Linked DNA regions of Homo sapiens: region 2 is linked to region 1. A link means that fine-mapping ties the variant in region 1 to the expression of a gene that starts in the linked region. Tissue or cell type: whole blood. Region 1 holds a variant in brackets; the other region holds the start of a gene. All regions are shown on one strand. Distances are between the middles of the regions.

What was found. PIP is the estimated chance that this variant, and not a neighbour inherited with it, causes the effect.
Region 2: it holds the start of GNPDA1, and the variant in region 1 is fine-mapped to the expression of GNPDA1 in whole blood (INTERVAL, PIP above 0.99).

Annotation. Positions count from the first base shown.
Region 1 is chr5:142,160,098-142,162,779 of GRCh38, forward strand. All of the region lies in intron 2 of LOC107986455 (a long non-coding RNA gene), which reads right to left. Among named protein-coding and RNA genes, the nearest start is that of NDFIP1, 53 kb to the left of the region's middle. The variant C/T (reference allele first, on the strand shown) is at 1,249.
Region 2 is chr5:142,011,700-142,014,381 of GRCh38, forward strand. It overlaps GNPDA1 (glucosamine-6-phosphate deaminase 1), which reads right to left and starts at 1,328. Exons shown (of 7, transcript NM_005471.5): 1 at 1,296-1,328; 2 at 213-342. The coding sequence starts at 336. RefSeq lists silencers at 453-512, 1,184-1,453 and a cis regulatory region at 2,595-2,682.

The DNA of each region.
Region 1 (2,682 bases):
GTCCTTGGCTTTGCCTCCATCCATAGTGGTTTATTCCCCTCAGAAAGAATTGCAGATGGAATTTGTATAATCACCTGTGTTAGAAGTGATGATCTACTTTGAAAAATACAGTTTTTATGTATTATAAATAATTGTGCTCTGCCTTCTTGCATATAGTTGCTTTGGGCCTTTATTTGATAAAAACTATCTTATTAGCCAGTTATGACATACATGACTTTATGCTGGATGTAGTATATACAAAGATTTGTACAAGACAGCCCCTGAACACAAGGAGGTTTTAGTCTGGGAGGAGATTGGTAGGAGACAAAGTGCTTTCCTGTCCAAGAAATCTTAATATGTAATGTTTTTCTGCTTCGTTTGCATAGTGATGGAAGAAGCTTTTTACACTTTTCAAGCTTGCTGCTAACTTAATTTTCACCAGAAGGGCACTTTTAAAGATGTTCGTAAAACCAAATGCCCTCAAAGGAGAGATTACTGCCACTTGAAGAGGCCACCCCCAAAAGGGCCAAAAGGATGGGGGAACATCTCAGGGTGCTATGTGGCCAGGACCTAGAAAACCAGCTGCCAAGGGGACTTGTGACTGTTAGCCTAGGGCTTGAGCCCTCGCTCCCCATTTACTGGCTGTGTAATCTTGGGTCATTTGCATGTCCTATCCAAGCTTTGGTTTTCTAATCTGTGTGCTGGAATATTTTCTCACAGGGCCATTTTTAGGGAGGTAAAGTGCCCAGCATCTAGCAAACAGCTCTTCACAGCTGATCAGCTATAGTATTGGGTCTAAGGGCAGGACATGAAAAGCCCAAACCTATAATTCAAACCGAGGGAATTCATTTCCTTTTCAGGACCGTATAGCTCTCATAAACCCTGCCTTTCCTCATTCCTTCTTTCCTAAATGTCATTAGGCCATCCCTGATAAATCAGATCATTCTTATCCTCCTAAATTCCTGCAGCCCAGATGAGAATATGATTTACTATTGCTTTTCTGGTAATATTATCATATGTTTATGTGGGAACTTATATACATGTTCATTTGATCTTCACAGATTACTATAAAAGGGATTATTTTGCGTTCTTTACCACCAAGCAACCAAAGCCTCCCTCCCCCGGCAAATAATTTTCCAACACTCACTAACATCAAAACACTCTACAGATTCAATAAACTTTGATTCTCATTTCCTTTCCTGAGTTCTATAGGCTGAAACTCTGGCCTCTTTTTTGCTTAGTCCATTTGTATTACATTACAAGACTTGC[C/T]GTATACTATCTTTGTATGGATTTAGGTATTCGAAGCAGCCTTTGAACTTCTTATCCTTTGCTTTGTTTCTTTCTGCACTGGCCTTACATTCTCTGCTCTTTTCCCTGCCCTTTCCATGTCTTCTTTGCCGCCCTCTCGACACCTCCCCCTTCCCCTACGTTTCCAGTGCTGCTTAGATCACTCTTGTTACTTCTCTGTCCTAAATTCCTACACAACTGTAGATAGGGCCATTTTCTCAGTGGCCGCTCTCCCTTTCCTTTCTCCAAATCTTAACCCTGGGCCATTTGAACCCTAGTTACTTCTTTTTTTTGTTTTGTTTTGGTTTTTTGGTTTGTTTGTTTTGAGACGAAGTCTCACTCTTGTCCCCAGGCTGGAGTGCAATGGCGTGATCTTGACTCACTGCAACCTCCGACTCCTGGGTTCACGTGGTTCTCCTGCCTCAGCCTCCCGAGTAGCTGGGATTACAGGCGCCTGCCACCGTGCCCGGCTAACTTTTGTATTTTTAGTAGAGATGGGGGTTTCACCATGTTGGTGAGGCTGGTCTCGAACTCCTGACCTCAGGTGATCTGCCCGCCTTGGCCTCCCAAAGTGCTAGGATTACAGGCGTGAGCTACCGCGCCCGGCCTAACCCTAGTTGCTTTCTATCTTCCCATTCCATCTAGCCGCATCCAACAAGAAAACCACATGCCTGCTTTCTCTTCCTGAAGCTCTCCAAGGAACGTTCCTGTATGCCCCTGGATAGATGGTTCCAGCCTGTGTCTGTGCCCCCCAACCCAGTCCTGCCAATCCAAGCCTGCCCAGATAGGGCCTGCCTGTTTTCCCCTTTATTGGGGGATCTGGGGAGCTTTTCACAGTGGTGGCATTTGTCACAGTGTTCACAGGCTCACCTCTTCATGCCCCTTCAGTACTAGTTTGGCTTGGCCATTAAACAGAAAGCATTGGGGTGTCCTCTGCTCTTTGTTCTCTCTCACTATATAGATCACCTCCAATGGCATCTGCATGAATCTATGACAACTCTCGGGCCTCCATGGAGAAGCACCTGGCTAGTCCCAAATTTCATAATCCTTCTGATGCTTCTGAATTACCTTCCACAAAACACTAGGATTCTATAAACTTTTAATTGGAATTTTATCTTTTAAAAACAGCCTTAATCATGTAATAAGATGTATTTTCAAATATGTGTTCAATTGTGTGGTTATTTGTGATCTCATTTACAGACATGAACAAATACTAAAACAATATATAAATAAATTTACTCAGAGTATTTGGGATCTCAGATTTTGTTTTACAAAAAGGGTTCTGCAGCTGAAAAAAAAATGGCTTGAAAACCACTGCCCTAAGTAAACACTCATCTCTTACTTTGCCTAAAACTGTTAGACCGTTATACATTTTTTTTCCTCCGTCAATCTTACAGGGGTTTCAAAATGCCCTGA
Region 2 (2,682 bases), 150 kb before region 1:
GCTCCAGGATTCTGCAGGGACAGGCAGCGACTAAACCAACCCATAAGGGAAGCTGGGTCCTTTGTATGTGGAAGGGGCAGGAAGGTGCTCTCTCAGCACCAGTACCCCAGAGCCCCCGTGAAGTCCCTTGGCTGAGTGAGCCGGTGTACCTGGCCCCTGTTGCCTACTCTCTCCACCCTTATCCACGGCACCCTCTCCATCCAAGAACGCACCAGTGGGGAGCCCCAGGGTGAAGTACTTCTCTGGCCCTGGGTTAAACTGGATGATGCGGTTCCTGATGTATTTAGCCGCCCACTCGCTCGCCTGAGAATAGTGCTCCAGGATGATGAGCTTCATCTTGTCCTGCAGTGGGGGAGAGGGGATGACAGAAAGGAATCAATGGTAAGGGGCAGAGAAAGAGATGGAGGTGGTGGGAGAAGCTTCTCTTACCCAGCAACAATCCCCTTCCCAAGCTGTCTGAGCCAGGAAAAAGGCCTTTCTATTCACAGAGGAGCTAAGAGGCTAGGCCAGTCGTCTCCACCACCCACAGACCACGAGGAGGCGCCACTGGGGGCAGATCTGGGTTCTAATCTCAGCTCCTTCACTTACCACCTGCAGGACCTCGGTCAAAGGACCTAAGTTCTCTCTGAGCCGTTTCCTCCTATGTAAAAATTGGGACAATAGTACCTACTTCACAGACTTCACGACGGGTAATATGAAATGAGAGAATGCATGTAAACAACTTAGTATTTTCTACGTTGGCTGTTACCATCCAGATAGATGCTCGGCTCAGCCCCGCCTCCCTCATCCCTGCCCCTACCGGAACGGGATACCCTACCCCCTCCCCGCCGTCTACCCCAAGACTCTTCCTCCAGAAGTAGAGAGGTCATGGGATCATGCTGGGCCACTAGAGCAGGTGGGGCAATGAGCTCTGCCTGGGGAGCTGTGTGCTCTCTCTGGACTAGCGGAGGGGTCTTCCTACTGGCCCACCTTGCTTTGCGAACCCCTCTGGGTCTTCAGTTTCCCCCAAAGCACAAAAGGGAAAAGGTAATCGCTCCAGAAGGAGGACATTTTGTTCCCCCAGCACTGCGGTTAGTGGGAGTGTGAAGGAAAGAGGCGAAGGTGGCCCGCGCGGTCGTCGGTGGGGTACAGCGTGTCCCCCACCCCCATTACCACCCCATCGCCCCTCCGATCCCTCCTGGAAAATGTGTGAGGGCGGCTCCCCGGGGTCCCGACCCCGAGTGCCGTAGGGCTGGGGCAGCGCTCCGCGCTCCGGCCCGCGAGGAAGGTCCCCGCCAGCCCTGCTACCCACTTACACGGACGCCTCCCGCGGCGGCTGCAGCGACTGCGCCGGCGGCCCGGCCCCGCGCGGGTCACGTGGCTGCGGGTCACGCGGCGCCGCGTGCGCCGCCCGCCGGGCTGACTCAGCTTGGCCGCAGCTACCCGGACCGACTCTCCCAGGTGGAGGAGTTCCGGCCACTCAGTCCCACCTCGGTCCCTGGCCCCGGCAGGCCCTGGAACAGACCTTAAAAAACACTTTCCCTTGGGAGGCGGGGATTCGAGTCTGGTTTGTGTGTGTGTGTGTGCAAGAGGAGGGAGACTTGAGGGGCGCCGGGTCGCCCCCAGGAATACAACCCCCTGGACCTTGGGGCTGGGGCCGGGGGGTTTTAGTGCAGGGGTTGAGCTGGGGGCAGGCAAAGCAGAATCGCTTCCTCAGTCTCCTAGGGTTGGGCCTGGCTCTGCCTTCAGTTTCTTTCTTTGTTTAGATGCCATTTATTTACCCAAGTATTAAAACTTGTGTTGTTTAAAGTACAATTGGGCTTTTTAATGTCCTTTTTTAAAGATCAAACTTTGCAGCATTATATAATAGAGAAAAAGGCAGGCCCCTGGTTTCCCCAACTCCCCACACCAAGATAACCATTGCTTAGTTTAAGAGTACATTCTGAATTGCTTTCTTTGAATATGCTTACACTGTTATTTTACATAAATGGGAACACATACACATGAGGCTTATATATATCAAGGCTCGGATATTTGACCTGCATTATTTCACTTAATCCTTATTAAGCTCCAGTGAGGTAGGTTTGCCGTTACTTTTTAACAGGTGGAGAAACTGACGCTTGGAGAGAAAAATTAACTTGGCCAGAGGCACAAGTGGTTTCCCTTGTGCCTTCAATTCAGGGGGATCTGTCCAAATCCAAAATCCATGCTTTTTACCGCTAGCGGGCACTGCCTCCCAGCTGGTATGACTGGATTTGGGACGCTTCCATATCAGAAAAAGAGATCCATCTTATTCTTTCCAGTCAACATTAGAGTGTTCCAGACTTCTAGGGACACTTGGGAACTTTCCATGCGGAGGCTGGAGGAAGGACTTGAGTGCTGGTCATCAGTAACATCTTCCATTACATAGGGTTTTGCCAGAGCTTTGTGCGCATTATTTCATAGAATCCCGCCCAATCGTCAGATATGATTACCGCCATTTTATTGATGTGGAAACTGGGGATCAAAGGCGTACAGAGACTTGTGATATATGACCTCATAGTCTGACATCCCGGACTTTAGTCAGTGCTAGGGAGCAGTGGTGAGACCTTCTGAATCAGCCTAGTTTTCCTCCAGCAGCAAAAGGCCAAAGGAATCCTGGCTTTATGCCCACGGGACAGGGCCTTCCTCAGTCAGCCGGGTGGCCACGTTCTGCAATTCTGC